2 separate regions of the Homo sapiens genome follow, and region 2 is linked to region 1. Evidence: fine-mapped expression QTL. A gene starts in region 1. The other region holds a variant in brackets. All regions are shown on one strand. Distances are from middle to middle. Region 1 holds the start of ACSL5 (acyl-CoA synthetase long chain family member 5). Region 2 has its middle 23 kb from the start of ACSL5.

Evidence for each region. PIP is the estimated chance that this variant, and not a neighbour inherited with it, causes the effect. A credible set is the group of variants that fine-mapping cannot tell apart.
Region 2: its variant is the best candidate, but not a certain one, in a credible set for the expression of ACSL5 in whole blood (TwinsUK, PIP 0.64).

Annotation. Positions count from the first base shown.
Region 1 is chr10:112,371,045-112,376,416 of GRCh38, reverse strand. It overlaps ACSL5 (acyl-CoA synthetase long chain family member 5), which reads right to left and starts at 2,301. Exons shown (of 21, transcript NM_203379.2): 1 at 2,148-2,301. RefSeq lists enhancers at 1-68, 91-310, 69-569, 451-600.
Region 2 is chr10:112,348,618-112,353,989 of GRCh38, reverse strand. It overlaps the pseudogene GUCY2GP. Among named protein-coding and RNA genes, the nearest start is that of ACSL5, 23 kb to the left of the region's middle. The variant C/G (reference allele first, on the strand shown) is at 2,400.

The sequences.
Region 1 (5,372 bases):
AGTGAATGGGGGCTTCCCGGCTCTGAGTTCTTCCTGCCACACGAGTCCCTGTCCTTCTTCCCTCGCTCGTGGTTCCTCCAGAGACAGGGTGGCTTCAGAGCGTCCATGCAGGCAGAAGGCCGGCCCAGAGTGTCCCCAGTTCTGCCCTGCTCTGAGCTGTCCCGAGTCAGGCCATGTCAGGCTTTCTAACGTGCTCGGGGACTTCACTTCCTGGTTTTAATTTTTTTTTTCACAACTGAAAGTGGAAGTGTTCTGACCAGGAGGGGAGAAGCTGCCAAAGCTACCCTGGCTCCGTGTCAAAGCCTTTCACCTCAGCCCCTAAGGGCCGACACAAAAGCCAGCTTGCCTCAACACAGTTGACCCTGCCCTCCTGTGGCCTATCATCTTTCAACTAAGATGAAAACAAACAAACTAAAATGACTTGAGGTGCCCCCTCAGATCAGAAGCCTCACAGAGGCAGAGGTGACGCTGTTCCCTGCTGGATTCGGAGGACAGGAAAGTCTGGCTAGAGGGTACCTCAGCCCTCAGACCCACACAAACACCTTCTACCCCGCCTCTCTCCAGTCGCCAGAGCTGCCTGCCTTGGTCTCTGAAGAAGTTCTGGCAAAGCCAAGAAAATAAGCAAGTCAGGAACGACAGGGCTGTGAGTCGTTCAATTGGCATGGTTTCTTTCCCTCTGATACAGTCACACCTCAAAACTTAACTTAAAAATCGATTCTTTCGCCTTGGTCACCCCCAGTATTACCAGGACCTGTATTAGTCTCATTTTTGATCCGCCTAAGGCTGTGGCTACAGGGGGGCCCTGGAGCTACCATTCTCAGATTAGGAAGCCGAAATGACAAATTTTCCTGCCCCTTCCCCACCTCACAGATACCTCAGAATGAAGCAGCACTTTCTCCAGCCTCGATCCCCCACGAAGGCTCACAGGAAGTTCAGCATGATCCTGGCTCTTTGCTGGAGCTAGATTAGGGTTTGTTCTTTCTACAGAGCAGTTCTTAAAAGCTTCCTACTAAGGAAGCCAGGGTGAGCTGTGCCACAGTCTCAGAGAACACAAGAGCTGAGCCCTTGGCCTCTGGGGAGCCGCCTTTGGACATGGAAGAAAGATGAAGGGCTGGGAGACGAAGTGGGGCCTGTGGCATTCCATCCTCTGGCTCATCTCACGGCTGGAGGAGCACTTGTCATTTGCTTAGTTTCAGGAACTCAGCTCCCCAAGAGGCAACTTCCTCTAGAGGAGAGCAGAGGATGGCAGAGTGGGTGTCGAATCTCAGCCACACTAATACCTCTGAGCCCTTCACCGGGTGCTGTCTTCCTTCACCAAAGGGCTCAGGGCCAGGGGAAGATGAGGTTTTATTTCTTTTTTTTTTATTGACCTCCTCCAGTAAAAATGCTCAAGTTCAGGAAGGTTGAGTCATTCTAAAGGCCCATCAGAGTTGTATTCCTATCAATCCTCTGTGCACATGAGTGACACCCTCAGGATTTCAGGGGGTAACTGAAAGCTTTGGCAACCCACAACAATTCTGCATTATTGGGCAGGCTGTGGAAACTGACCAATCAAGTCTCAAATTCTAGCCACACCACCTTGGAGCTATGTAGCTTAGGCCATGCTGTTTAACAGCCTGGAGACGCACTATGCCTCTGTGAAATGGGAAGGATACCACCTGCTTTATAGGATGAGATACACCAATGAAGTAACATACATAATCTACCCAGAACAGTCCCCAGCACCTAATCGAATATCTGCTGATTCCCTTCCTCTCTGTCTGCCAAATGGGACTCTCTGCCCTCAGCAGCTGACGCACGATCCTTCTAACTACACTGAGACAGAAATTTCTTAATGGAAGATGAAGGAGACCCACATTCTGGCTTGGTGTGCTTTAGTACACTTACCAAAATCAGTGTTCCCTTCCAATTCCATCCCCTGCTAGCATTTGGATAGCTCATATATCTCCACCCCTTTTCCAACTGATTTTTTTCTTTGCCTCCCACACAAGTCAGCTGAGATTACTATTCAACTAAATGTAATTTCATGTTATTAAAGAGCCTTAGGTTGAGCATAACAAATCCCACTTTCTTTCCCCACACCAATCCCCTCCCTACTATCTCACAGATATATTCAATATAGTGCAGGTAGTATCATTGCAGCTTACCTTGGAAGAAGACTCTCCCTTCCTGGGTCCAGGAAGTGCTCCCCTCACAGCTGGCTGTATTGATTCAGCACCACATTCAGGCACTTCTACTCTTTCCACAGCTCCTAGGACTGACTGGGACACACCCGAAGCTACTGTGTACTGTCCTGAGAGTGGCCAACACACTCCCCTGGAACCTTTGAATCTGTCACAACAGAAGTTCAAAGGTAGAAGTTACCTGTTCAAACACTTGTAGTAACCTCTGACAGTAAGAAAAGCAGTGTTGGGCAAAAGATTAAAACAAGAGATTGTTATGCAATGGGCTTAAGCGGGAAAAAAAAAAAAGACGGCCCTTAGTTCAGAAAGCTAACGTTTACCAAGAGAAACCTTCGATAAAGCTCTACCTCAGGGGAAGGAGAAGGGGTAGACAGGGCTTTGCATCTGCTTTGGGGGCACAATCCTTGAGACTGTGATAGGAAGAGGAAGGTCTAGATTACTAGAAGAAAAAGGGCTCCTTGAGATCAGAGTGAGAGAAAAATGAGAAGCCACTTTAATTGGCTCAAGCTATAACTTTAGGATTCAGACTAAGCAGAGGTGTGCATTTGCAGACCAGCTATCTTCTAGAAGGGACCACTGCCCCCTTCAGAATTAGAACGTCTCCAAGACAACCAAATGAGCCAAATCAGTCTAGAGTCTAGGCTGAGAGACAAGCCTAGGACGGTTGTTTTTAGGATTCGGAATCACGAACACAGTCTGCAGCACACATAGTTTAGCAAGGCGCTAGAATAGGAAGCATTGCTTCCTGGCTAACACGGTGAAACCCCGTCTCTACTGAATACACAAAAAATTAGCCGGGCGTGGTGGTGGGCCCCTGTAGTCCCAGCTACTTGGGAGGCTGAGGCAGGAGAATGGTGTGAACCCGGGAGGTGGAGCTTGCAGTGAGCCAAGATCGCGCCACTGCACTCCAGCCTGGGCGACACAGCGAGACTCTGTCTCAAAAAAAAAAAAAAAAAAAGAAGCATTGCTACTGCGTCATGGCTCAGCCATCCTACTCTCTCCTTTTTTTTTTTTTTTTTTTTTTTTGAGACGGAGTCTCACCGCAACCTCCACTTCCTGAGTTCAAGCAATTCTCCTGCCTCAGCCTCTGGAGTGGCTGGGATTACAGGCATGCACCACAATGCCTGGCTAATTTTTTTTTTTTTTTTTGTATTTTTAGCAGAGACAGGGTTTCACCATGTTGGCCAGGCTGGTCTCGAACTCCTGACTTCAAGTGATCTGCCTGCCTCGGCCTCCCGAAGTGCTGGGATTATAGGCATGAGCCACCATGCCCAGCCTCTCTTTCCACTTTGAAGTTCTCTAGTCACCATTCTTGATTCCAAGATCATTAGGACTGCAAGGCATCATTACTAAACAAAAACAGTGGGTAGAAATGAAAGAAACCCTGGAGATGATGTGCAAACTTACTGTATAGGTGAGGCCAGTGAGGCCTTTTCAGGTGAAAGAAGGCTTCTGGAATCACACAACCAGTCGGTCAAGACAGCACCTGACTCAGAGTCATGAGAACCCCTGCAGTGCCTTGGCCCCTATGCTGCCCCATTGATCTGTGTATGTTTAGCTACCAGAATGAAGCCGCGGACCCTCGCAGTGAGTGTTACAGTTCTTAAAGGCGGTGTGTCTAGAGTTTGTTCCTTCTGATGTTCAGATGTGTTCAGAGTTTCTTCCTTCTGGTGGGTTTGTGGTCTTGCTGGCTCAGGAGTAAAGCTACAGACCTTTGCAGTGAGCATTACAGCTCATAAAAGCAGCGTAGACCCAAAGAGTGAGCAGTAGCAAGATTTATTGCAAAGAGCTAAAGAACAAACCTTCCACAGTGTGAAAAGAACCCCAGGTGGTTGCCACTCCGGGCTCGGACAGCCTGCTTTTATTCTTTTATCTGGCCCCACCCACATCCTACTGATTGGTCCATTTTACAGAGAGCCGATTGGTCTGTTTTACAGAGAGCTGATTGGTCCGTTTTGACAGGGTGCTGATTGGTGTGTTTACAATCCCTGAGCTAGACACAAAAGTTCGCCATGTCCCCACTAGATTAGCTAGATACAGAGTGTTGACACAAAAGTTTTCCATGTCCCCACTAGATTAGCTAGATCCAGAGTGTCGATTGGTGCATTCACAAACCCTGAGCTAGACCAGGGTGCTGAATGGTTTACAAACCTTGAGCTAGACACAGAGTGCCAATTGGTGTATTTACAATCCCTTAGCTAGACATAAAGGTTACCCAAGTCCCTACCAGAGTAGCTAGATACAGAGTGTCAATTGGTGCATTCACAAACCCTGAGCTAGACACGGGGGGCTGATTGGTGTGTTTACAAACCTTGAGCTAGATACAGAGTGCCCATTGGTGTATTTACAATCCCTTAGCTAGACATAAAGGTTCTCCAAGTCCCCACCAGAGTAGCTAGATACAGAGTGTCCATTGGTGCATTCACAAACCCTGAGCTAGACACAGGGTGCTGATTGGTGTGTTTCCAAACCTTGAGCCAAATACTGAGTGCCGATTGGTGTATTTATAATCCCTTAGCTAGACATAAAGGTTCTCCAAGTCCCCACCAGACTCAGGAGGCCAGCTGGCTTCACCCAGTCGATCCCGCACCGTGGCCACAGGTGGAGCTGGCTGCCAGTCCCACACCGTGTGCCCACACTCCTCAGCCTTTGTGTGTCTGGAATTGGTGGGTTCTTGGTCTCACTGACTTCAAGAATGAAGCTGCACACCCTGGCGGTGAGTGTTACAGTTCTTAAAGGCAGCGTGTCCGGAGTTTGTTCCTTCTGATGTTCGGATGTGTTTGGAGTTTCTTCCTTCTGGTGGGTTCGTGATCTCACTGGCTCAGGAGTGAAGCTGTGGACCTTCGCGGTGAGTGTTACAGCCCTTAAGGTGGGGCGTCTGGAGTTGTTTGTTCCTCCCGGTGGGTTCGTGGTCTTGTTGGCTTCAGGAGTGAAGCTGCAGACCTTCGTGGTGAGTGTTACAGCTCATAAAGGCAGTGTAGACCCAAAGAGTGAGCAGTAGCAAGATTTATTGCAAAGAGCGAAAGAACAAAGCTTCCACAGCATGGAAGGGAACCCCAGCAGGTTGCCACTGCTGGCTGGGGCAGCCTGCTTTTATTTCCTTATCTGGCCCCACCCACATCCTGCTGATTGGTCCATTTTACAGAGAGCTGAGTGGTCTGTTTTAACAGGGTGCTGATTGGTGTGTTT
Region 2 (5,372 bases), 22 kb after region 1:
TCCTCCTGGGATGGAGTGGATGAACTGTGGAGGGTTGTAGAGAATGAACTCAAATCCCATTTTATCATCACTGCCAGCATGAGATACACCAACAATAGTCTAGTCCTTCTTCAAGAGCATCTTTGGAGGATATCATCAATTGCCAGGGGTAAGTAGAAAAGTCTTCTGTTGCTTTTATTTGGAGAGAAAAATGGGACAAGCAGATTTGAAAAAAAAAAAAACAACCCAAAAAACTCTTCACTTTTCTATGAGTGTAAAAGCAGATGGAAACAAGGTACAAAATTAATAATATATAAAAGCAACTTCCTTTATTGCTTGACATCACTAACAAAAAATTGTGGGTTTTTTTTTTTGGTCTAAAGTAAAACCCCACATGCTACAGTGTTATGATACACAGCGCAAGTTCTAGAAGCATCTTACAGGTGGGCTGGGTCCTGGACTTCACTATTTGTTTACAGCATGGGCTCTGCAGATTGACAGACCTAGGTTTGAATCCAGTCTCTGACATTTTAGCTGTGTCCTCCTTGGGTAAGTACCTTAATCTCTCTGTATCTCAAATATCTTTTCTATAAAATGGAGACAACCATCCTACCTATGTCACAGAAAGGGGAGGATTAAATAAGGTTATGCCTGTAAAGTGCTTAGCACCATGTCTGGACAAGTAGTTGGTCAACATATGACAGCAATTATTTTTGTGGTGATGCCTATAAGGCTCAACTTTCTAGCATGAATTAGTAACTGACTCCTTTCTGTTCCTCAAATAAACTGAACTCTCTCCAGCCCTGAGACTTTAGGGTTTTCTACTCCCTTGGCCTAGGGTGTCACCTGCACCCACTCCAACCAGTGATGCTAATGTGGGACTCTAAGGCACAAGTGGCTCTCACTTGTTTTTCTTCCACAGCTACCTCCCTGTGTCCCTGTTGAATCTCTAATAAAGGGCTTGAAAGACCAACACTGATCCAATGAGGCAATTGTTATGTGGTCTCAGTCACATTCCACCCTACCCAGCACCTTCTTAAGGGTAGCGTCCTCTCATCCTTGCATCCTTGCCGACTGGGTCCAGAGCCCACCTCCTCAGGAAGGCCTTCTCTAACCACTTGATGTGAAGCTGTTTCCCCTCCCCACCCATTAGCATCACAGCATCCGTTTCCAACCTCACTAATTAGAATCTTCAATGATCTCTTTAATCTGTCCACTTGTATGCTGTCTGCTGGCTCGTTCACTGCTATGTCTGTGCCCAGCAAAGTGCCTGACACATAATTGGAGCTCAGATAAATAGACTATAAATTACTTCATTTAAAAAACTAGCTGGGTGCGTTGGCGCACGCCTGTAATCCCAGCACTTTGGGAGGCTGAGGTGGGCAGATCATTCAAGGCCAGGAGTTGGAGACCAGCCTAGTCAACATGGTGAAATGCTGTCCCTACTAAAAATACAAAAATTAGCCAGGTGTGATGGTGCATGCCTGTAATCCCAGCTGTCCTGGAGGCTGAGACATAAGAATTGCTTGAACCCAGGAGGCGGAGGTTGCAGTGAGCCGAGATTGTACCATTGTACTCCATGCAGCCTGGTCAATACAGCAGACTCTGTCTCAAAAATAAATAAATAAAAAATAAAACCCACTACTTCATTTGTGTATTCTGAAAATGAACGGTGATGGGATTAAACGGCAGAAAAGTACCATGGCCTACTCCTCCCTCCGGCCAGCCCAACTCAGAAAGTCCAAATGCCCTTGAAAGTCCACATGTCCAAAGGTCCTCTGTGAACTCCTCTTAGCTGAAGTGTGGCTGACAAGTCACAAGCCAGGTCTGCTGTTCTGATTTTTGAGCCAAAAAGAAAAAAAAAACCTAGAGCACAGAGGTGATCCCAAACTTTTTTCACTTGTACATTGTGGGGAGGCTGCAGCAAAGACTTCAGTGCTATAACTGCTAGTTTGTACACTTCAGGTTTGGTTAAAGAATGTAAAAACTCAGGGACTAGTTTAGGCATTCCTGTTTCTTAAGGCATGCCCAAGGAAAGAAAAAGTTCACGTCTCATTTACAGTGACTTTAGGCCAGACTTAGAGTGAGAGCATGCGTGAGAAAGCACACATACACAAGCATGTGCAACTGGCGGACTCTGGTTTTCATTCTTATAGTTATCATCTTAACGTGCAGCTCAGAGGATGCAAAAATTATTCTTCTGGCTGCAGCAAACCTGGGACTCAGCACTGGAGAATTTGTTTTCATCATTTTGCAGCAGTTGGAGGTGGGTACCGTTGACCACTCAATGGCTCTGGTAGTAAGAGGTAGCAAGTATGGAGCACTCGTTATGACCCACATGTATTAGCTCACTGAGCACTCACTACAACCCTGTGAGGTAGGCACTCTCGCGTCCTCTTCTTAAAATTAGGACACTAAGA[C/G]AGAGCTGGAAGAACTTGCCCAGAGTTCTTCTCCACAGCTAGTGAAAGGCTGAACCAGGCCATGAACTAGGTCAGCTGGCTTGAAGGCCTAGCCCGCTGTATTCCGTATCAGACAACAACAGTTGAGGAACTACTGTCATTTCTACCGGGCAGCTGAGACCTTCCCAAGGGACCCTCAGACACAAGCGGCTCTCACTTCTTTTTCTTCCACAGCTACCGCCGTGTCCCTGCTGAAGCTTTAACAAAGGGCTGGAAAGACCAACATACAGATGCAACGAAGCAATTCTTAGGCAGTCTGATTCTTTTGGTAATGAGAATGGCTAAAAACACAACTGCTTACTATGAGGACTGAGTTACACATTTTACACACGATTGCACTTAATATTCTCAATGGCTTTGCAAGGCAGTTCCTAAATGCATTATTTATGTGCCTGTACATTTTGTATTTGGTATTTCGAACAGCCTTGGAAGGTAGATATTATTGTTATTCCAATGTACAGGTAAAAAAACCCAAGGCTTAATTAAGGTACCTTATCTAAGATTTCAGCACTCCCAAGTGGCATACCTAGTCTTCCAGACTGGGCCTTTCAGTCTGAGCTCACCCCACACAACTCTGCCTTCTGGAGAGCTTATGGAGTACTGGGCCTCACTGTGAGTGCTTAATACATTAACGCTTATTGCAGCCCACCACCACACCATGGGGTATTTTGGATCTGGAAATTGGTGGGTTCTTGGTCTCACTGACTTCAAGAACGAAGCTGCGAACCCTCGAGGTGAGTGTTACACCTCTTAAAGATGGTGTGTCCGGAGTTTGTTCCTTCACATGTTCAGATGTGTCTGGAGTTTCTTCCTTTTGGTGGGTTTGTGGTCTCGCTGACTTAAGGAGTGAAGTTGCAGACCTTCACGGTAAATGTTACAGCTCTTAAACGCAGCGTGGCTGGAATTGTTCATTCCTTCACGTGGGTTTGTGGTCTCGCTGGCCTCAGGAGTGAAATTACAGACCTTCACAGTGAGTGCTACAGCTGTTACAGGTGGCGCATCCGGAATCGTTCATCACTCCCAGTGGGTTCACGGTCTCGGCAGCTTCAGGAGTAAAGCTGCAGACTTTCGCACCATGTTATAGCTCACAAAGGTAACATAGAGCTAGAGCAAGCAGCAGCAAAACTTTAGCCCAAAAAGCAAGACAACAAACTTTCCAAAAAGAACCCAAAAGGGTTATCGCTGTTAGCCCACGCAGCTTTTTATTCCCTTATCTGACCCCACCCACATCCTGCTGATTGGTCCACTTAACAGAGAGCTGATTGGTCCATTTTGACAGGGTGCTGATTGGTGCGTTTACACACCTTGAGCTAGACAGAGTGCTGATTGGTGTGTTTACAATCCTTTAGCTAGACATAAAAGTTTTCCAAGTGCCGACCCAACTCAGGAACCCTGCTGCCTTCGCCTAGTGGATGCCGCCTGCGGAGCTGCCTGCCAGTCCCAAGCCACGCACCCACCCTTCTCAGCCCTTGGGCGGTCGATGGGCGGGGCCCTTTGGGGACGCTGGGGCTGCGCGGAAGCCCACTGGTGGCGGGGGGGGCGGAGGGGAGGCATGGCAGCTGCAGGTCCTAAGCCCTGCCGCGTGGGGAGGCAGCTGAGGCGCGGTGAGAATTCGAGTGTGGCGCGGACGGGCCGGCAGTGCTGTGGCACCCGGTGAACCCTCCGCAGCCGCTGGCCCAGGTGCTGAGCCCCTCACTGCCCGGGGCTGGCGGCGCTGGCCGGAGCTCCGAGTGCGGAGCCCACCCCCACCCGGAACTCACGCTGTCCAGCGAGCGGCACCCAGCCCCGGTTCCCGCCCGCGATTCTCCCTCCACACCTCCCTGCAAGCAGAGGGAGCTGGTTCCGGCCTCGGGCAACCCAGAAAGGGGCTCCCACAGTGCAGCGGCGGGCTGAAGGGCTCCTGAAGCACCGCCAGAGTGGACGCCGAGGCCAAGGAGGCGCCAAGAGCGAGCGAGGGCTGCTAGCACGTTGTCACCTCACTTTTATCATCCTCGTTTTACAGAAGAGGAAACTGAGGTTCAGAGAGGTGCCAAAACTTGCCCAAGGCCATCCAACTAGTATGAGGGAGAGCTAGCATTCAAACCCAGGTGGCCTGGGCTCCTTTTCTACCTCTCATCAAGTGCACTGATGCATGGAAATAATGCACGTAGTATCTGCCTCACAGGGGGCTATTGTGTCTGTGCTTGTAAGCATCTTACACAACAGGCATCTACAAAAGCTACTTGCCTTTTCCTATGGACACGGTGCATTATTTTTCTAGCAGTTTTATCTTTCTAAAATAAGCTTTTTAAAAAAATCACAAGAAGCTGAAATAGGACAGAAGAAAATAAAGGGAGATATATAGTAATGTCCCAGATTTTTCTTTCTTTATCATGAAGTCTTTCAGATCCACAAAAGCATCTCAGATTTCTTTGGGTAGGGAGCTGGAATCCTAAAGGCATGCCAGACTTTCCAGAACACTCTCTTACCCTAGATATCCATTGTGACCGCCTCCCTTTCTCTTCACTTTTCCTCTCATCTCTGCCTTCAGGCACATTGTTTTGGCAGGGAAACTTTTCAACTCCCCTGTTGCTTTCTCCCACACATTGATGATCCATTCCAACTGGTGTGTAATGGCAGAAAGAAGGTAGAACTAAGAATACACCAATGTCTATGCAATTGAATTCATGCTGCTTCATGAAAGAATAGCATAAATCTATTTTATGAAACTATTCCCAGTATAGGTTTAGGTGGAAAAAAATCAAGCTGCATTATGGTATGATATCATCATATATATATATATATGTGTGAGTGTGATGTCATATATATGTATATATACATACATATATGTATAATGAGTGGGTATATACTGTTCATAATAGTAACGTAGATTATAATGATAATGCCACAAGCAAAAAAAATTTAAAAAAAGCAAGAATCTATAGTCTTAAGCTT